2 linked regions of the Homo sapiens genome follow. The protein of the gene in region 2 purifies or fractionates together with the protein of the main gene of each other region. This does not show direct contact. Each region holds a gene or a part of one and is shown on either strand. Other genes may lie near its edges. The genes, in order: GLS and CFAP45.

What was found.
Region 1: the proteins of CFAP45 (region 2) and GLS purify together in Homo sapiens (affinity purification with mass spectrometry; 2 studies listed by BioGRID and IntAct, with this or other methods). This does not show direct contact.

The regions. Positions count from the first base shown.
Region 1 is NC_000002.12:190,881,877-190,893,370, reverse strand, and holds part of GLS (glutaminase kidney isoform, mitochondrial isoform 1 precursor), read right to left. Parts: intron 11,459-11,494; exon of another isoform or gene 11,383-11,458; intron 1-11,382. UniProt on the Homo sapiens protein: Catalyzes the first reaction in the primary pathway for the renal catabolism of glutamine. Plays a role in maintaining acid-base homeostasis. Regulates the levels of the neurotransmitter glutamate, the main excitatory neurotransmitter in the brain.
Region 2 is NC_000001.11:159,874,213-159,885,706, forward strand, and holds part of CFAP45 (cilia- and flagella-associated protein 45), read right to left. Parts: intron 10,354-11,494; coding exon 10,224-10,353; intron 6,489-10,223; coding exon 6,342-6,488; intron 3,251-6,341; coding exon 3,137-3,250; intron 2,538-3,136; coding exon 2,344-2,537; intron 1-2,343. UniProt on the Homo sapiens protein: Microtubule inner protein (MIP) part of the dynein-decorated doublet microtubules (DMTs) in cilia axoneme, which is required for motile cilia beating.

The sequences.
Region 1 (11,494 bases), on a different chromosome or scaffold from region 2:
ACAGATTAGGAAACAGAGGCTCAGAGGTTAAGAAGCTTTCCAAGGTTACACAATGGCAAAGATGGATTTTTCTGAATCCAAACTACTGCTACATTATACTGGCTCTCTAACTTACTAGCTTGTTATTACTTTTATAAGGTACAAACAAGTTTTCTAGGTCTTATCCTGACCTAATACCATTAAACACAGCTTAACAATACTCACCACCTAATATTCAAAGAAAAAACTGAACCAGCTGTCAAAAAATCAGTGGATAATAACATACCAATTATTTACAGCAAATGGTTGGTCAAATAAACTTCAGATAGTGGTAGTTTGTCACTTTAAAAAACTGCAGAATAAGCTTTCTATGTATTTATCACACAAGTAAATGGTATTTGCTTTGCCTAAAAGCTATGTAAATAACGTAAAATATACACTTTTTTAGCTTATGGCACATAGTGAAAAAAAATTAAAATGACCACGTTATTGCCAAAGCTAGCAAAAAAAGACAAATGTTTACTTGCTTTTAAACAAGAAATTAATTTTTATCTATAGGGGAAAGAATTTAAGCCAGCCCTAAAAAATAAGCTCACAAAATAAGCTGTCAAAACTGATAAAAAGAAATTACTACCTATTTCAGCATTTGAAACCTCAGATTTTGATCTGAGAATGAATTCGCTTCAACAGTCTGGCGAACAAACATACTCAAATATTCTCCTCAAACTTTCCACAAGGCAGAAACTACTCAAGATCATTCATGCCTTAACCCCCCTTTTCTCTCCCTAAATTAATTCTTTCTGGTAATTCTTCACAATAATGTATTTTTCATTAAAATTCAAAAGCTAAAAACTATAGCTTTTGGTAACTATATAGTAACTAGGAAATCCTTGAGAGAAGTATTTAAGTTTTAATGACAAATAGGATTATAGCAATCTTTCAAATCTTATCATCAACAATTATTAATAACCCAAATGAATCCTCCAGATTCCCCTGAAGAGAAAAACATAAAATGGTTATGATATTCAGCAATTCAAATAGGATATAACAGAAGATAATCTGAAGGAAAATCCTTATTTCTCACCTTTTTACTTCTTCTCCAACTTATACTGTCTCTCTCGTTTCCTTTCTAAATGCTGCCTTTAAGATCATCTTACCATCATATTGTTTCTTCTTTTACCCATTCCTTCCCCTACTTTAGCCTTTAACTGTCTTAAAAAATAATTTCTTAATGAAAAAGAAGAAAAATCCCATGCCATGTATGACATCATGTTAGACATCATTTACAGTCTAGAAGAAGTAGGAGACATGTACATAAAATGAGGAATTACAAGAATAGATCTATGACATCCAGACTTTGGAAAACTACTTCACTGTGGTCTAATAAGGTCAAGCTTTTTTTTAGATGAGGTGGAATCTGAGCTAAACCTGAAAGATGGGTAAGAGCTGGAAGCATGGCAACAGAAAAAGATTTCTGGCAAACAGACCAAAGGGATGAAAGTAAGCATTCACTTAGTGTTTATAAAGAACAAAAAACAGCTAGAGCACAGAATGTGTGAATTAAGGTGCCTGTTTCTACCTATAGGCTATTATATGAATACTTAATTTTTTAGTGTTGAGAATATATATATTCTGAATATATATATCTGAGGTAAATGAGGAGACTACCTTCCAAAATCTACATTAAGTTTAAATGCAGGGCCAACTTCTGCAACATGAAAAGAGGAACTGTCTTTGCTTACCCCACTGACCAAATTAGTTTCCCCATACCAAAGGGGGAATTCATACTCCTCAGTCTGGTATGCAGTTCTCTATAAATTAGTTTTACACTATTTATTCCTAACTTAATCCTTATAATTCCCCAATGTAATTGACTAGACTCAATGACCTGTAAATAAGTGCTATCTCATCTTTTTTTTTTTTAACCTATCATGCCTTCTGTGTAAAACCTTCCTCTCCCTAAATCTTAAGCTATCAATGATCATTTCAATTGTTTCACAGGACTTTGCCCCCACCAGATTCTCTATACTCTTTAGCATTCTCTGGTATCACTAAGTTTTGTCCTTTTCTTGTACCACTTATTATATGCCAAGCAATAGCAATAAAGATCCCTAAAGTAAGGTTGTGGTCTAGGAGAAATATGACTAAAGCCATGAGACAAATACTATGGTAGAAGTGTTTTTCAAAAAGTATTTTATTAGCAAGTACAGATGAAGTATTTAATTTTGCCTTAATCGGTAGGGGAAATCAAGAAAGTTTCTAATCTGTAATTAGGAGCAACAAGGCAAACTCATCTTCATCAGTTCAAAAATCTTATAAATAAAAAACTATCAAATGAAAGGAAGAAAATAAAAAAAAAATCCTTACTAAGAACTACAAAATGAACAGAGGAAAATAATTGAAACCAACTGTATGGTCTTATTTTGTTAAATAACATTTCATATTACCTAACCTCCCCAAACTATAAAGCTTCAAGGCTGGGGTCAAGTCTTTCTTATTTTTTTTTTCGCATAACTCTTAAAACACATAGTATAGTATGGTAAACCTATGAGACAATGAAAAACTGTCTTTTCAAGTGGGATTAAAAAAAATGAGGCCTAATAATAACACAATACAAAAGGATTTGCTAGTCTTTATGCCTTCATTTAAGAATAATGATCCTTCAGATGATAATTCAGGGTTGTTTTAAAATCAGTGTATCATTTTGAATTTATAGTGAGCTGACTGATAACAACCGTCTATCAACACCAGCAAACTGGCAGATTAATAAACCTGTTAGATAGAAAGTTGAATTGATGGTGGCTGACCATATAGTAAAATAGCATATGAGAATGAATGTTAAGTCTAACAAATTGACAAATTCTAGTTATCATCCAAGTGATTTTGCCCCAAGGCTAATCATTGGTTGAATTTAAAAATAAAAACTTACATCTTTTAAGGCTTTACTGCTAAAAAAGGACTCTCACTTTCTATCATATTAAAACCCTATGAGGTAAATTAAGGTGGGTTAATTGTCCCCAGTGTACAGATAAAAGAGAGTCCTAGAAGAGTGTGGTGGCATGCACCTACAGTCCCAGCTACTTGGGAGACTGAGGCAAGAGGACTGCTTGAGCCCAGGAGTTCAAGGCTGCAGTGAGCTATAATGGCACCAATGTACTCCAGCCTGGGTGACACAGCAAGATTCCATTTCTAAAAAAAGAAAGAAAATGTTAATTTAAATTTTAAATTTAAAAAAAATTTTGTTTTAAGAGTATCCAAGTCAAGCAGAATGTCCAATGTCACATAAATCTTAAGTGGCTGGACCAGAATTAGTCCTACAAAGCTCATCCTTTGTTCCCAGTTCCAGACTCTTCCTGCTCTGCCACCTCATGCTCTCAGTGGTTAGCACTCTATTTTAGGAATAATATCTGTAATTCTTAAACAATAATAAATTTCTAACCAAAATGCACATAAGAGAACTAAACTGGTCTGCCTTGATAAAACTGCATCCTGTCAAAGCAAAGATGAGATTATATTCAATTAGTGCTGCTGTTTTGACTGGACTTTATAGCACAAATTCATTTAATAGCACACCAAAGTAAAAAGCACAAAAGCCACTTTATGTGAGGAAATGGTCAGGCTGCCCCTGTCAGCTCATGGTAATTTGTCCATACGTTTGCACAACTTCAGAAGTTTGACCCAAAAGGCAGTCTGGCTGTCTCGGGTGGGAAGACTAGGATCTGGGGAGATCAAGTCTATAACATCCAACTCTGTTAGTTTTTCCAATAACTCATTTCTTCAGCCAAGTATCCTTTAATATATCAGTCTAGATGGAATAATACAGATACTATATGAATTCTGTCACTGCAATCACTCTGATACCACTATAGACAACTTGTTCAGAATAACTAACATATATAGGTAGAAGTTAATGAAAAACTTCAGCCACACATAAGGAAAAATGAAACAGCTATGAAAACGGAATGGGCTGCCTTCTAAGGGAGTGAACTCCCTTGTGAAGGCAGTATTCAGGTAGAGATGAATAACAACAACCTATAGGGAGTATGTAACAGAAGAGAAGAAAGCAGCAGCTGGGGAGAAGGGTTTGTAAGATCTCTTATAATCCTCAATCTAAAAAAATTAACTCTATAAATTGAATTAGTTTGCTGCTAATAGATGAAAAATAAAAAATCAAAACAAGTCCTAATACTGTCTGAACTTGTTTAGGTCATTTAATATCTGCGGGCAGCTTATATAATACGTAAAATGAGCTGGAATTAAATGTTCTTTAAAGTTACTTCCAAGCTTAATTCTCAGTTTTTGAGTTGCTAAAAATAGATGTCCTCCAAATCACTACACTAAAGTGAGATCATAAACTTTATTCACTCACAACTTACATACTTTTATTTTACACATTAGCATATTCATCTGGGTTCTAAAACTAACAGAAGTATTTAATGCCACTGAACTAGGGAACTTAAAAATGGTTAAAGTGGTAATTTTTATGTTATGTATATTTAACCACAATTTTTTGAAAAAGCTAAGCAGAACTGGATACAGAAGGTAAGAGTGAAGGAGGATAGCTAAAGTAGAGACATGAAGAACAGTCAACTGATACAAGATACAAAAATCCACAAAAGAACAAACCCACCCTTAAGAGTACTGGTTAAAGCAGAACCAATCAAGGCATGAGAGAACTTACCAATAAATATATTTTAGTGTAGGGCTACGCAAACTACAGCAGGGACCTCCTCTTTTTGTAAATAAAGTTTTATTGGAAGACTGCCACATCTATTTACCTATTGTTTGCAGCTATTTTGCTACCACCACTGAACTGAGAAGTTGTAGTAGTGACTAGAGAACCCCAAAAGCTGAAAATATTTACTATTTGGCCTTTCAGGGAAAGTGTGCCAGCACTTGTCTTACAGCATCACTGTATTACAGTGCAGTATAATAATGCATCCTTAAAATACACATAAGTTGAACAAGAAATGTTAAACTCTATTGATTACAATGTTTTAATATGGCAGAGAAATATGTAACATTTACTAGGGAGATATATCAAGCATAGTTTTAAATTTTTAAAGTTTGATGTTTAAGGGTACCAGTGAATATGATTAGACAATGCTGATAAACAGGAGCTGTGCAAATTCATACATAACCTATTTTCATACTTTTCTTTCAATGTAATGGTGCTTACTGTTCTTATACAACCAGAATCAGGATATTAGAAGAGTAGACAGTAGAGATTTACAAGTTCAAAACTTAACAGATGTGGTTCCTTTGATTTTCAAAACTATGGAATGTTTTTTACTGTTTTAGACGTTTCCCACTTATAATGGGGGGGAAATCTTAAAAGTAACAAAAGGAGGCAGGAAAAACAATGCTCGTTCTCATAAACCACAACTGCTAATGTCATTTTGGCTTATTTCCTTCTATTACTTTTTCTGAGCTTTTTAAATAGCTTGAGATCATACTGCATAGAAAATTCTGTATTCTAACTTTTGGCCGTTATAACATTACCTTATATCCTAAAAAGTACCTGCAAACATTTTAAATGACTAAATAAGAGACCCTCATATGAATGTACCACAATTTACTTAACTATCCCACTAATGTTGAACATGCGTTTTTCTCCATTTTTCTCTAGTATGCATAACACTGTACCAAAAATAATAGGAAATAAATCTTTCTAACACTTCAGTTTATTTTGTGAACTTAGATTCCTAAAAAGGTATGAATACTTTGTAAGTTCCTCATAGAGCTTAAAAATTGCTCTTCAGAAAGTTTACCATCAAGAATTGAAGGACGGGTCTATGTCACTCAAAATATCCTCATCAAGAAGACAATTTTAAAAATCTTTTTTAGAAGCCTGTACCAGAAATAAATAGGCAAAAATATATTTCTTAATCCTGAAAGCTATCAGTTTTATTCATTATGCAACATCTACAGTTCTATGTTTCGAAAGTAATGCTTTTACTATAAACATTTCTTTATAATGAATTTAACATATCAAGCAGAGGACACTCCCAAATGGAAGTCAAGGTACATTAACATTTTGCTTCTACTACGTTGTAGGGGGTCAGAAAATCACTAAGTGCAGTGATGACTCACAAGTAATGTGTTTCATAACCAAAGCAATTTTGCACCTGAGTAGATTTCAGGGTAAAACTGTACTAACAGTATCTCTATGTGAAAGCTATGTACCTCACTGAGAGATATCAGTAATTAATAACTATTTTTATAAATACATCTGTTTACTCACCTTTCTTAAGCATTTCTCTTACTAGCAAATGACTTAAAGGTGAAAAGGCACAGACAGGCAACTATAAAATATAACCTTAATTTATATAGGATTTAACATGATTGAGCTCCCTCACACAAATTCTATAATTAGGCTTTCAGCTTATATGGTCATAATTTTTCTTCATTTCAAATATCACAAGAAGGAAGTAGTACAGCCTTTTACTATTACTTTCTTTTTTTTTTTTTTTTTGAGACAAGAGTCTCGCTCTGTCACCCAGGCTGGAGTGCAGCGGCATGATCTCGGCTCACTGCAACCTCCACCTCCTGGGTTCAAGCGATTCTCCTGCCTCAGCCTCCCGAGTAGCTGGGATTACAGGTGCCCGCCACCACTCCTGGCTAATTTTTGTATTTTTAGTAGAGACAGTGTTTCACCATGTTGGCCAGGCTGGTCTCAAGCTCCTGACCTCAACTGATCCACCTGCTTTGGCCTCCCAAAGTGCTGGGATTACGGGCATGAGCCACCACGCCCAGCCTGATTTCTTTTAAATAACTTTTTAAAACTCAAAGAAACCCACAAATATCTTCAGCAAATTTCTTTCAAAGTGACATTTATCTTTGGACTAAAATAGTGCCCCCCCTCCCTTTTAGCTGGCCTACATATTGCCTCATAAAAAAGGCTGAATTCTATTTGGTAGTCATTTCATGGATTAGCTGACTTTGAGGTAGGTAGACTTCTCTATAAAAGAGTAAGGTCTGGAAATATGCAGCTAAAAGTCCAGGAGACTAAACCCCTCAGAATCTAATTCTTGTTCTTTCAGTGAATTTCATCCAAATATTAATAAAACTATAAATTAACAGCATGAGTTTGTTAATTACAGATCATGGACAAAGTTATCAATGACTGATGCACATTTCAATATAAATATTAGGTCACAAAAATGTTATGACATATAGTTATTGGTACCTTTTTCACTTGCTTTTAAAAAAACAAAACTGGGCTGGGTGCAGTGGCTCACGCCTGTAATCCCAGCAATTTGGGAGGCCGAAGCAGGCGTATCACAAGGTCAGGAGGTCGAGACCATCCTGGCTGACATGGTAAATTCCCATCTTACTAAAAATACAAAAATTAGCCAGGTGTGGTGGCACGTGCCTGTAAGTCCCAGCTACATGGGGGGCTGAGGCAGGAGAACGACTTGAACCCAGGAGGCAGAGGTTGCATTGAGCTGAGATCACACCACTGCACTCCAACCTGGGTGACAGAGTGAGACTCCACCTCAAAAATAAATAAATAAATAAAAATAAAATTTAAAAAAAAAAACTAAAACTCACTGATAATCATCACCTAGAAAAAAATTTTTAATAATGAAGAAATCAAAAATAACTAAGGGGCTGCCTGAGAAGCCCAAAGGAAAAAATTAAACATACTTTCCACCTTGATTTTAGCTTAAGTGAATTGTAAATATGTTAGCTTTTAAAATTAAAACCAAATGCAATACTGAAGGATCATAAAAACATGTGCCCCCATTTTAACAGAGGTTTTGTCATTCAGTTCTAAAACTTAATATTTATATCTGCCAAATACTAACTCAACTTCCTTACTAGTATTGTTCAATCTACCCAATTCAATGTTCGCTGAAATTCATAAGCATTTCATCTTACTTTGAAATTCAATGTTCAGACCAGGTGCGGTGGCTCACGCCTGTAATCCCAGCACTTTGGGTGGCCACAGCGGGCAGATCATCTGAGGTCAGGAGTTCAAGACCAGCCCAGCCAACATGGTGAAACCCCATCTCTACTAAAAACAAAAATTAGCCACGCATGGTGGCGGGTGCCTGTAATCCCAGCTACTCGGGAGGCTGAGGCAGGAGAATGGCTTGAACCCGGGAGGCAGAGGTTGCAGTGAACCGAGATCACACCACTGCACTCCAGCCTGTGTGACAGAGCGAGACTCCATCTCAAAAAAAAAAAATTCAATTTTCAGAGTATACACCTCGATGATTTTCTTTGCCCTTCATTGTCCATAACTATCAAAACATAAAGCTGAACTATCAAAACATAAATCCATACTAACTAAAGCTAGCTGAAATCATTTTTGCTTGCATTTTTACTTTTAAATATAAATATATTTTAAAGCATGCTTATTTGTGTAATTACAAATATTTCTGAATGCCACGACTTCATGTAGATATGCAAACATCCAACTACCACATCACAGCTATGCAGTTTTTAACAGAAACTACCAAACTGCCTAAAGTAACTGAACTAATAATTTATACTTCTACTAGCAATGCTAGAGTTCCTATTTTCCCAATTACTTGATTTAACATCTGCCAATCTGAGAAGGGGAAAGTGACCTCATTGTTGTTTTAACAGAATACTTTCAATATTGCATCCTGTATGAATTATCTATTTTCTAACAACATACATATGCTGGTATTTTTCCAGCCCAATTTCTGTTATGTATCTCTTTTCCTTTCTCATTAAAAAATAAATGTCCAAATAAAAAAACTTAATAATGCCCCTTACCTCTATCCCTCTGACTCTTCCTAGGGACCATTCACTAAGATAGGATACATACTTCTGGACTTTATGGAAATAAGTATAACCAGCTTAACAGAGAAAAGTATGATAAAAATGTCCATATGGGCAAGTGCTGGCATAAACCATAACATAGTTTGTGACTTTAATATAATGCTCATTCCAGATCCTGCTGGTTTTCTGGAAGAGAGTGCTATTTTCAAATTAAAACTCTAAAATTACTCTCATAACAGTACGCAAAATAGGTTGAATTGGAGAAAAGAATGAATATCAGGGTACAGACTTAAAATTTGAAGTCATTGAATATGTGGCGACAAATTTAAGAACAGAGCTTTGGATTAAGAGGTGAAGTATTACCTACACAAAGATGAGAGTCAAAGCTGAAAGAAGGGATACGCTGTTGAGAAGGCAGACAAGTGGGAAAGGGACAAAGGCCTCAGCCTCAGGGTTTTTACCCAGTGAGGAAATTCAAAAAGAACTAGGAAAGAAGAGAGAACAATTTTGAAAACGAAGAGAGGCAAGCAAAGTTGGTTTTCAAGATAACAGAATGAACCATAACAAAATTAAATAAGATCACTAAAGACAAAACTGAGCAAAGATCATTAAATTTTTCTATGTGATATTAAGACGTTCGTATCCTAAACCACACTAAAGTTGCGTGATGGAAACAGCATAGTCTAAAGTGACATTAGTTCAAAGAGTTTGTGAAAAAAAGGTAAAGTAACTTGCTTATATCACGCCTCCTTCCAGAATATAAAGTAAATAAAATATAAACTCAGGACCAAGGAAAGGAGGAAACGCAGATATCCCAGCCATGTGAACTGATGAAATTGGTGTGGTTAAGCATTAAATTTACTCTGAACTTATTTATCAGCAGAGCAAAAGGTAAACAGTGCAACTCACATAGTTTCATATAAGACAGATGTATAGCAATTTCTCAAGATAAACATTTTTGTGGAAACTAAAAAAATTAAAAACCTTCATGTGCAAGCCTGAAATTCCAAGGCCAATCTCTTTAACAGGCTTTACAATAATGAAGAAGCAATGTTTTCTCATTTATTTAATAAATAGTTATGTGTCATTTAACACACGCCAAATATTGTTCTAAGCCTTTTACAAAATGTTAATTTAATTTTCTCATGGTTATTTCTTTTAATAATACTACATAAAATCTGGCACAGTCCTGAGTGAGTGCTAGCATACCAGGTGGACTGCTGACTGAGGGATGACCTATGCTTTGCAGGCTAAGCATTAGAAAGGATAACAGGATCAACTGGGAGCTTACCTCCCAGGATAAGAGAAATGTTTGTCACATAAAGGCAAAATGAAAGGAGCCAAAGAGGGAAAGCTACATTTGGAAACCAGATCATTAAGGAAATAGAAACTTTAACCAAATTAAAAAACTTTCTTCACAACCTTGAGGCCCTTGCTAAAAGGTGATTTTTTATTAAAAAGGCAATGAAACCAGAAACTTCTGGACAAGTGAATCACAGAAGAAGCTCAATTTCCTGTTTGACAAAAGAGGAAAAAAAAGAGAGGCACTAGAGCCACTGCAGAGACACAGACCTGAAGACATAATTTTACTAGAATGCAGTTCCCATCTTGTAGCCTTTAAGATGAACTTTTAAACGGTTGTGACTGCATTTTGCAATTCTGTACCTTGGGCACTTGCATGTAAACTCGTTACTTCCTTGGTAAACCGGATGATGTTAAAGTAAAAGTGAGTCCCAGATGAGATTAAATTATCATTCTAGTCCCTAAAACATGAGAGAAGTACAAATTTAACAGAAGTATAGCTTTTTAGAACTTGAAAGGATTTAAGTCATCTAACCCAAGATATTAAATAACCTGTCCATGGTCAGGACGCTATTTTGTGGCACAAAACCAACATCACAAAATACCACAAATTTCGCCCATCATCAAGTGATTTTTTTCAAATAATCTTTTTCAGTCTGGGAGAAGAACTTTAGAAAAGTTTCTGGAAGGTCCCAACTTCAATTACAGGAAAACATCAAGCAGGCGTGAGATTGAAATTATAACAATGTTCTCACTTTCAGTTTGACTTAAGGAACTCTAGAGCTGGAAATAGCAGCAGAAATAAAAGGGAAGCAAAACAGGTTAGAGTGTCAGCGTACAAAGCCAGAAAAAGAGTAAGGTATAATGAAAGCAGATCCGTAAATTTTTACCCATTTTGGGAAAACAAAGTGGTCCATTTGTATTACACAAGACAAAAATATATAGGAGACTGCTTTGCATATTGTTTAAGAAAAACCAGTTTTGCTTTAAGACTAAACTACTGTGCCGTACACATACAGGATGAGTCAACATCCTATCACAATGAAGTCACAAAACCTACTCAACTCAGATTTTTCACTGAGTTAGTGTATTACGTCACATTTCATCTTGGCTATTTAACTTTTATTTCTAAAAATCTCCCCATCTCACGGAAGACCTGACAAGCCAAAGCTGGTCCCTTATGCAAACAGGTGGTCTATACTGCGTGCCCCATCTTCTCGGCCACATGACCGGATTCCTCCTAATCTCACTTCTGAAACATTGTTTCCGGTGCCCCAGATGGCTCTACACGTGCCTGAGGTAGCCACTCCCGAAATATAAAGAGCTCTCTGTCACATCTGGCTTCCAACCGGATGATGGCAGAAACCAAGGGAGGGCAGGCAGAGCGGAAACGAGCCAGGAAAAGCGACAAGTCAGGAAGGTAAAGGCTCTGCTGAACGCCCAACTCCTAAATGTC
Region 2 (11,494 bases):
ATGTAAAATCATCTTAGGCAGGAATTTCTCACCTGCTCTCCTCCCCTAGAGTCACCGATACCCCAACAAAAGGTACCTACAACACTGCTTCATTTCCTCATTTCCCTCTAGCTTTCTTCCAAGATCCACCATACATGCGGCATCCTCCCCACTCCCAGAAACTCTTTCCATCATGCAAACATCTCCTAAAATTCTGTGCCTTCTACAGAGACTTCCCAGTTTACCCGAAGAATACTGTTGGCTTCCTCAGCCCTCTGTATTTAGACACCAAATCCTGACTTCCCAGACACATCTCTGATAGCAGGGGGACTCTCCTCTTTGCCTTGCCATTGTTTTCCTATATTTAGAACAGTTTTCTATTGTTTCACCCTCTTCTGAGTGAAGGGGTAAGTGTGGAAAAGGGGGACTTGTATGTGTCACTAGAGAGCCCCGGTGGTGCCAGGCAGTTGAAAATCCAAATGAGGATGAACCTGGTCGTTCCATCGGGTTAGGGCAGTGATCACAGAGCCTAGCTACATTTTAGAATCACCTGGGAGCTTTTGAAACAGACTCATGCATGGGCCTAATCCCAGACCATTTAAATCACAATCTAGGAAGTGAAGCCTGGTCATCGTATTTTTCAAAAGCTCCAAGACATTTCTAAAAACCACTTGGTAGAGGAAGACAGCTATCTCTGCTTAGTCAACAGGCTGAGAAGTATGGACATCCCTCTGTCCAGAAACAAAAGTCCACATATAGGCCATAGAGGAGGCTGTGCTTTTGAGGCAGAGAAAGTTGGATTTGGGCTGTGGCAGAGATGCTTCTGAGTAAAGACACCAAACATGGTGGTCACATGGCCCTGGAGACACTAGGCCTAGATACTAACCTACAACAATAGGTGAAGTTGAACTTCTCCAAAAAGGCTGGTCTAGCTTTAATAACTGGCTAGTGCATATGCTTCAGGCAAATGATGCAAAGGAAAGATAAATGGGTCGGCAGCAAAAGTAGGACTTAAATTTCATTTCATTAATATTTATTAGTGCCTGTTAACAGCAACACAGATGTCCAAGGGCATAGAGGCCAGGGAGGAGAGAGGAGACATCTGGAAGGCAGTCTGTAGCCCAAGGGCAGAATCTTGGGGGGCATTTAGGAAGCTACTTTCTTCACTAGGTGTCCAGTGACCATGGCACAACCCTGGGGGCAGAGAAAATTACAGAGCCAAAGGGTATCATGGCAGGGGGGACATGCTGGGGCCTGCAGTCCAATAAAAGGCCAAAAATCTGGCTCTCGTAAGGATAGAGGCTCCCGAAGACCTGCTCTGCCTCTAACTAGGGGTCTGGGTAGCCTGGTCTGGCATGCCACTAACTACCCATTGCCAAGAGGAAGGACTTAGAGCATATGAACCAAGAAAGTGATGCTATACTGTTTAATCTCTACTTATCTGAGCATAATGTCTATAATTTTGTATCCCTTCAATTCGAATTTTGCTTGGCTTGTTTCCTTTTGAAAAATTCTAATGTTGTAGAGTCTGAACCAGAGCAAAAAGAGAGTCATTCCCAGTTAGACCAGGAGAACAGCCCCAGGGACCAGGTCTGACTGGTGGAAAACAGAGCAGAGAGGGAAACCAATGGGAGCTGTGACTGTTGACTGCTTTTGGGGAGGGAGCAGAACAGTGAGAGATGTGAACATTTAGCTTCCACTTATGTGTTGAAATTATCATTGAGCCAAAAGGGAAAACAAAAGTAAAAGGATAAATAGCTACCAAGGAAGAAAGATGGATTGATGTAGGTGCAGTCCATCCAAACACAAATCTCTAATACCTTTCCTGTGGAATGGGCAAGAGCAGTGTTTTGTTAATTGCTAATGTCCTCCATGGCATCCAGCACAGAGCCCTGCATTTCTGTGCTTAATATATATTTGTCAAATGAACGGCAAACAGCTCCCTTAAAGTCCTGCTCCAGTGACTCACAACCCTTAGTGTCTGAAGTTCTTTTCTCTATCTTTCCTAAACCACTCCTCTTGCAGTTTCATCCCCAATTTGCAGGGGCACATGGGTCAGAGGGCAGCAGAATGGACCAGAATTTTACCTTTATTTATACTTTTACTGTTCCAGGGTAAATAATCCCAGTCATCACCAATTCCTTAAGCAATTCCAGGTGCTATCTCCCAATTCTCTAATCACATAATTCTTGGCTCAAGTGATTTTTAAAAGTTTCAATCATCCATCTAGTTATAATGATCCCACCAACCCAGACAAGATCGACGAGCATCTGTTAACATGCCAGAAAGCTTCTCTCTATCCAATATGGACCATCCCTGCTACAGTACAAGGAAAGGAATCCAAGGTTCCCAGGCCCCTCCTACCGAAGAATCCTCTCGAACTCATCCCGGTCCCGTTGCACCTGAACAGCCAGAGCGTGCTCCTTGAAAGCCACCTGTTCGAGCCGACTTTTTCGCAGCTCAGCCTCTGTTTCCATCTTCTTCCGCGCATTTTCCTTTTCCTTTCTGCGCCACTCTCTGTCTGCAACCTCCTGGTTGCGCTTGGCCCGCAAGGCATCCTGGGAATGTTGGCAGGGGACCAGTGAGGGCACAAAATAGCTGGAAGTACAGACCAAGTGGCTTTAAGAAGATACCTACTTACAGACTCTGACAGTCTGCTTTGAAAAGCATCATGAATTTCTCTGGCAGCTAGTTATTCTAGGAAAAGATAAATGGAATCCTGTCATCAAACCTTTGGGTTAGAAGATAACCTGAGGGGTCATCTTGTCCTTCCAACCCACTCATCCCAGTTCTTTCCCTGTACCTCAGACATCTCCAGGCAGTCTTGAAATTGCTTCTAATTTTAAAAACTGCTAATGATGGAGATACCACAGGTTCCCCTGGTGACACATTTCATTGGTTGGTTAAGGTTGAAAGTTCTTCTTTATGGAGCAGCGAAAAACTTTCTCTTGAACCTTAAGCACAGGCTGCACTGCCCAATCCCTGCTGACACAGGCCCTGGGAGCAGGCCACCCCTTCCTTCTCAGACTACTGAAGTCTAGGTAACTTGCATCCTTTCCTCCGCATCTCCACCCTCAAGGCCATTCTACAGGCTGTCAAAGGGATGGATAGGCAAGGGAGTGGGAAAAGTAGAGGGAAGTCGAGACTAAGCAGGTACCTGTTCTGCCTGGTAATCCTGGGCCTTCTCCTGCATGGCCCTCAAGCGTGCGATCTCCTTCTCTTTCTCCCTCCGGATTCTCTCCTGCTCAGCCTCAAACTCTGCTTCTCGAGCCTGCCGGAAGGAAAGGCCTTGTAGAATAGTTGCCATTGCCCCAGCCTTGCAGAGAGAAACAAAACCCCTACAACAGACTTTCCAATATCTCCCCTACCACTTCCTGACTCCTTTTAAAATAGGACAAAATAAGGCCAGGTGCCGTGGCTCATGCCTATAATCCTAGCACTTTGGGAGGTTGAGGCAGGAGGACCACTTGAGCCCAGGAGTTCATGACCAGCCTAGGCCACAGAGAAAGACTCTGTCTCTACTAGAAATCTAAAAATTAGCCAGGCATGGTGGCATGTGCCTATAGTCCCAGCTACTCGGGAAGCTGAGATAGGAGGACTGCTTGAACCTGGGAAGTCGAGGATGCAGTGAATCATGATTGCATTACTGCATTCCCCTGGGCAACAGAGTAAGACCTTGTCTCAAAATAAATAAATAAATAAATAAATAAATAAGGTAAAATGAATTTAGCAATGCATGAATATAAAACAATTAGCATTTATAAAATGCTTTATTGTTTACAAAACACTTTCCTATGTGTTATCCTGGAGAGCCCTCACAACATTTCCTGAGACAGATATTATAGATGAGGAAACGGATGGTCAGAAAGATCAAGGGTCTTGCCCAAGATTGCACAGGAAGTAAACTACCTAACAGGATTTGAACACAGGTACCCTGACCCTGGCTTTCACACTCCTTCCACTATGTCATAGACAATTTTCAAGTTGCAAGGCTACTGGGCCAAGAAACAACTGGTCCTGTGCCTGTCTTGTAAAGTACAGCAGGTGGAGGTTATCTCATTAGTCCCTGGGCAAAGAGCCAACCATGCTTTGGGCAGTCCCACAGTGGTTACCAGATACTTAAAGAATGAACCACCAAAATTAGCTCCCTTTCCACCTCTCTGAAAAAACAGGTATATCCTTAAAAGCTTCCCAAGCCCGCTTCCCAACGCCATTCTTGAGCAATCGTAAGATGAATGGTGCAGGTTGGAGGCAAATGTGACATTTATAAAGAATCTTCCCGGCCAGGCATGGTGGCTCATGCCTGTAATCCCAGCACTTTGGGAGGCTGAGGCAGGCAGATCATGACGTAAAGAGATCAAACCAATCCAGGCCAACATGGTGAAACAGTGTCTATACTAAAAATACAAAAATTAGCTGAGCATGGTGGCGCATGCCTGTAGTCCCAGCTACTCGGGAGGCTGAGGCAGGAGAATCTCTTGAACCCGGAAGGCAGAGGTTGCTGCAGTGAGCTGAGATCGCACCACTGCACTCCAGCCTAGTGACAGAGCAAGACTACATCTAAAAAAAAAAAAAAAAAAAAAAAAAAAAACCTTCCTTGCCCTCATTCTACCTGCCCAGACTTCTGTGAAGCCCAGTGAGTTGTCCCTGTAAGTTGTACGGGGCTGTTGTCAAGCTGCTTCCTTTGTCCACCCTGCCCTAGATAACAGGACAGGGAACTCTGGGTGTTTCTACAACCAATTTCTGCTTTTAGCTCTGCAGGGGCAGCCCTGGCTGCAAGAATAGATACCACCGTGAGGTCGGTAAGGGCTTGTGATATACGTAGATACTTACGGTGGACTGTGGACATGCCCAAGTGCCTGATTCCGTGGCCAGTCTCCAGCCTCTCCCAGCTACACCTTGACAATGTCCTTTCCATGATAAAGACAAGATATACTCCTCTCTTGCTTAGAAATTCATGGCGACTCCTTATCATTCCACTCTTCCAGCTCCACTCAATGTCCAAGACACCCCAACAACTGCTCTTAGCTCTCTGTCATCTCACCACCCTCATTTCTTATTATATCCACTACCAACCCTCTGCTGCAGCCAGAAAATATGTGCACTAACTCCTACACAGAATTAGCTCATCATCCCCACCTTCATTCACTTGGGAAAATAGTGGTTGAGTTCCAATGGTACAGCATTATCCTAGGTATTTTCAGCCTAGTCTGACTGGACACATATTGAAGCATCCAGTATATTTTGAATCATCAGTGACCATTTCACAGGATTATTGTAAAGATTAAAAGAGATAACACGTGTAAAACACTTAGCACGGAGCCTATGCACAGACTAGGTGCTCACTAAATGATAGTTATGTGATTGTTATTATGTAGGAATCATCTATGTCCCCAAACCTGCATTCTCACTCTATTGCTTGCATAGAGTGTCCCCAGCATCCAATAAGAATACTAAAGCCAATAAGTGAGCTTCGCTGAGCTTCATTTTCTGTGGTTTGTATTCAGAACATATAGGTGTACCAAATATGCCATTCAAATTATACTCACACCCTCCCCCTGGCCTTCTTTAAAAATCACTACTATAGAGGAGCATAGAGAAGTACAATGTGTTTCTGTCATCATGGAATTTCAAAACTAGCAGGGCAGACAAGATCAACACATGAAGAATTTAATAACTTTCCTGCCACCTTGAGTACTTCCTCCTCTTTTTACATAAATCCATGTTCACTTTATCTATACCACTCTTAAAAGCCTTCTTCTACTCTCCAATCCCCGTAGATCCCAATCATTTTATTACTCAATTTTGCCCCAGAATGAGCTGACACATTCATGAGCTACATCCATCTGCAACTGTCTGCAGGTATGGCTCTCTCCTCCACTGTGCATTTGCTCTGTCATATAGGTTCTTTGGTGGGAGATGGGGGAAGACTATTTTCTGAGTCTAGCACCCAATACAGGATGTCCAATATAGGCATTTGCACAAGAAATTTATGTAACCGCTGACTCATGATTACCGGGGGTATAATTACGCAAGTCATGACAAATCCACAAAAAAACTCACTTTCACCAATAGTTTCAGTTTTCTTTTCTGCCTGCATATGGCCCTCATCCCAACTTCTAATCAAAGGTGTTAATGAGGTTAAAGCTAATTTGGTTGTCCTTTCTAGGCTGTCTCTGTTAACGAACAAGTGGACTGGCTAAGATGAAGAGACAAAGAAGCCAGGCCCTTGAACTAAGGATGTGCATCTTAGAATGAAGGTGCGGCTGCCTTCCACTGGAGTTCCCTTAGTTCTCAGGCCCTCCTCTCCCTGTGACAGACATTCCATTCCTAACCAAAGGTCCCAGAAACCAAGTCCCTACCATCTTCTTCTTGGTAAACTCCATCACCATCTGGTCTGCCAGCTTCTCCTGAGCCAGCAGTTCTGCTTTCTGTTTCTGGTTTTCATCATTGATGCGCTTAATCTCAGCTTGCATCTTCAGTTTTTGTTGCTGCCTTCGTTCCATGTCCTGCCAGCAAAAGAAAGAGAGCCTCAGAGTACAAAGAGGTAAGACAAGAAGCCACTGGCATCCAGGGATAGAGAGATGCAGACAGAGGAGGGGGCAAATGCATTGCCTGCAGTCTAGTGTCCACAACTATCCTTTGTTAAAGCTGTTTTTTCAAGGGTCATAAATACCCTCTTCAACCAAATGGCCTATTTACAGTCTTCATCCAACTTGACTTTGTGGCAGCCCCTGATGCTATTGATCTCTATATTTTCAGGAAGCAGAAGCTCTTAAAGTTCCATACAATTGCCTCTCACATGTTTTGCTAAATCCTACCCCTGTGGCTTTGCTCATGGTGCTTCTCCTGCCTTCAATGTTCCTCTCCCATTTAAACCTAACTTTCACTCTCCAGTCAATAGTGACGACTGAAATAATACATATTGCCTTAATTGAGTGCTTTCTATTTCTTGAGCACTGTACACAGACTATCTCTAATACCTAAATATGTCCAAAAATCCTAAAAGGTAGGTAGGCCTTGTTATCTCTCTTGCTCCAATAAAGAAACTGAGGCCCAGCATTGAAGTGACTTCCCCACCGGCCACACAGCTTATAATCTCCAGAGCTAAAATTTTGAAACCTGTTCTGTCTAAATTAAAGTATCAACCTTCTCTGGAAATCTTGCTTGATTGCCTCAACTTTCAATTCTCTCTCCATTTCTAAATTCTCTCTGCACTTAAGGTGGCGACACACCTCTTGCAAGGTGATCATACACTGCCTTGCAGGTCCCCACTCATTTCATATGTGTTCGCTCTGCCCCAGTTACAGGACAAGGGACCTTGTGTCACACATCCTCTCTTCCCCAACAACATGTAGCCCAATGCAAGGAAAATAGCAAATATTCGATAAACCATTGATAAATGAGGCAGGAAAGGTAGGACCAAAGTGAGAGGCATGTGAGAAAGGAAAGAAAAAAAGTTCTTAGACACAGGGAAACATTTGACGGAGATCAGAGTACCAATGTGAACAAGGTCGTTTTTAAGGAAGGATCCCCCTGCCTTTCCCAGACCTGAGCCTTCAACAGCTCTCAATGATCAGACCACTTCTGAGCCAAGCACATTCTCAGGTGCAGAGGGGCATCGGAATTAGGGGAACAGCTGGCCCCCCAATCACCTCCAATCAATCTCAGACTCCTTAAGTTCTTCTATTGATTAACTCACCCCACCTCCCACACTGTTTCCAGCTCCCTCCATTTCTCCAAAGACTAAATCCCTCCCTGGCCTTCCAGGTCTTCCTCAGCCCAGCTGCTGCCCTGATTCATCTAACCAAGGTAACTCTCCCTGTGTGTCTTCCTGTAGTGCTGGCTCTCTGCCAGCTTGGCTCACTGCCCAGTTCAAGGCTTCTTCCTTCAGGAAGGCTTCTGAACCAGAGCGGTATGGCAACTCTCTGCCTCTGAGGTCCATGTGGTGCGTGAGTCACAGACATTCCCTCTCTCTCTCACCATACTCATTTCTTTGCTCACTCCACTTTTCCCTTTCTGCCCCTCCAACTCTCTCGCTCCTTTTCCCCCTTCTCCCTTTCTTCCTTTCCTTCCTAACTGCTTCTCACTGATTTTAGGCCTGCTATTTGTATCCCAGACATCATTTAATCTCACTGGCCCTCAAAGCTAAAGATGCTGTTGATTTCTGATGTATGACATACATACAATCATGTATTTATTTACTTCTTTCCCTATTTATTTACTTTTTGGATTGTTGTTTTTGTTGGCTCATTTCAATTCCAAGACACCAAAGGACTTTCCCTGTTTCTTTTGAAGCCCTTCCAAAGCAACCCCAGATAAATTCCCTTCACTCTTTCCCCCTTTGTTAGCAAGGTGGGAAACGCTGCCCTTCGTACCACCATGAGATGATACAGTAGGTCTAAAGCTGGGAAGGCACAGGTTTCCTTGCTAAAGTTGCCCAATAATACTTCCTGGAGACTCAGGGAGTGCCTGTTAGAAGGACATTAAAAGGATAATGACACAACATCAACATAATGGTGCTGACTCATGGACTCCTAGAACTTCCTCAGTGAGCCCACTAATTCCCACTCCCCACATCTAGTTGGATTTTCCTGCCCTCACTTCTCACCCACTACCTTGCATATTTGCCCCATAACTTTCCTTCTTGGCCCTTTCCCACTCTCTCTCCCCTGAGCCAGGAAATGGAGTAACTTGGCCAGGTCTCTCATTGCCTTCACCCTGCTATTCTCCTTCTCATGCAGTTCACAGAGCTGTGTGCCCCTTCAGTTTCCCAACTACCCAGGTGATCTTCATTGCACTTCTCTAGCAGCTCCTCACACTGCAGATGTGATGAGAAGGCTTCATAATTACAAGTCTGCCCACCTGCAGCACTCTTCACGTCCCCCTGTCACTCACCACCATCAAATGCACTAGCTGATGACAACTTGACAATTCATAAACACAGGGGAGGGAGAGAATCGTAAAAGAATACGTGTTCCACAAGTTAAATGGCACCATGAGGAGGCAATCATACAAATTCAGAATGTGAGATATTCTTAAAGGCAACTGGCCTAGATGCTTCAAAATATCAGTGTTATAAAAATGAATGAAGAACTGAATGAATGAATGAATGAATGAATGGGGGAACTCTTCTAGATCAAAACAAACTAAAGAGACTCAACGGAATGCAATGTGCAAACCTTGATTAACGTCTAGTTTGGAAACAAGAGAGCCAGAAATACATATTTGGAACAATTGGGGAATGTGAATGTGGATTAACTATTAGATGATATTATGGAATCACTGAATTCAAGTTTTTGATGGAGGAGGTGATAATGGTATTGTTGACATGTAAGAGAGTGTCCATGTTCTTCAGAGCTGCAGGCTGAAGCATTTAGTGGCAGAGTGTCAAGATATCTGCAACTTACTTTCAAATAGTTTAACAATAAAATATATATATATATATATATATATATATATACACACACACCTAGAAAGAAACAAGCAACTAAGGTAAATGATTAACAATCATTAAATCTAGGTGAAGAGTTGATGGGTGTGATACAATTTTTTCAACTTTTCTGTGTGTGCAAAATTTTTCAAAATAAAAAATTGAGGAAAAAAATAAATTATCCAAGTGCCTGCCATGTCCCTCACTGTGCTAAAGGGTTTTATACATTGTTACAGCCCAGAGAAGGCATACAGAAGATGACTTTTTAAGTCTTCTTAGTTTGGGCAGGTATGTTGTCATTTCTTTTGCAATAAATATGCTTACTAATTTTATTTGGACTAACAGGAAGAAAAGGTTTGGCTTCACAACACAGTTAATGGCAATGGGATGCTATGTACTTTGAGTGAAGTAACAGCAGGGAGTCTGGAACTAAGATATTGCTACTGTTCATCTACAAAGTATATAATATCCCTAGGTGATTGAAGGAAGACTATAAAACATCCCTATGTTTACTTGTGCAAAGCATGCAGCCATATATTTCCTTTATGTGTCTATTCACAGTGATATGTCAGTCTTGGACCTCAAGTCCTTGGAAGGAAGGGACAATATCTATCCAAATCACTGCTCATCCCGCAGCGTGACACCATGGTGAAATAAATATTTAACATGGCAATAAAAAGTTGACGGTGATGATGTTGTGAAATGAGCATGTGCCTGGCAGAAAATCAGTCAACACCCTGAAACCCCAGAGTCTTGAAGGGTTTTGATGCTGCAGCTGGTGAAACGTGGCATTGTCTGTCTGGCCTGTTACCTTTAGATCTTCCTCTTGGAGCTGTTCCATATATTCCAGCATCTGCTCCTTCTCCTGCTCCCGCTGCTCAGCAAGCAGCGATCGCTCCTCCTGGTTCTTTTCCATCTGTTCCACAATTTGCCGCCTTCCTCTTGGAGAGAACAGTGCCACAGTGTCTTAGAAACCCCGGGTCCACATCTCCCAGAGTCCAACCTCCACCTAAACAACCCCCAAGATGGGTGGTGTCACCGAAACAATTTGACAAGTGCCCCCTAAACATGAATATGCTTCATGAGCCCAGACCAAAGTCCCTCCCCCAGGAAGGACCTCAAGGGTTGGCCTCCTTTCTCCTGAGCTCCTGGTTCCAGGGCTCACTCTTCCTGAGATTCTCCTTCTTTATTTGTTTGTCCAAGAGGGGTACCCCACTTGATAAAACACCTTCTACCTTCCAGTATATAAAGAGTTTCTGAAATCCTACCACCTCCCAATTCTTCCCAGAGTAATCATAGGAAGCTAGCTGAATAGTAAAAAGCCAAACAAACAAACAAACAAACAAACCCAGGGTGTACAAGCAATGTTGTCAGTGATTCCCTATGTGTTAGTGGGATGTCAATAAACTTGGAAGCATAGACCCCATGACATATGAGTAAAGGCTGGAAGAACGGGAGAAGACACATATTAGGATCAGAATTGAGGGGAAAGAGTATGAGAGCCACATTCAGATGGAGTGCTCGAATGGCTTCATGACTCCAGATGAAGTAAACAGGAGTAAAGAGTAAAAGGGTTACATGAAAACAAGTTTGGGCTCAATACAAGGACCAGCTCAAATCATTACAGTTGCCTAACAAGACAGAGTTTTCCTTTGCTGGAGCTGTTTATGCAGAAGATGGACAGCCACTTAGCCACTCAGTAACCTTTCACTGGGAACCTACTATAGTATACCAGGTACCTACCAGAAGTACAGAGGTGAATGTACCAGGTATAGTACACAAGACACAGAGATGAATGGTTCCAGAGAACAGGATACAGTTGGGGAGATAAAACTGCCATTCAGTGTGGTACAAAGATTATTTATAAAGGTAATTCATGTATTGTATGGTTGGCGTTCTAAATCTAGGACACTATTATTCTATAATTTACTTGCTCTGGGACTTGTCCTTTTCTGCACAAAATGAAGGGGAGACTGAATTTATTCATCCCAACATGAATTAAGCACCTATTACAGGCCAAACACTCTGCTAGGCTCAGAAGCTACAGAACTGGATACGAAAGGACCTGTCCGCAATGAGCGT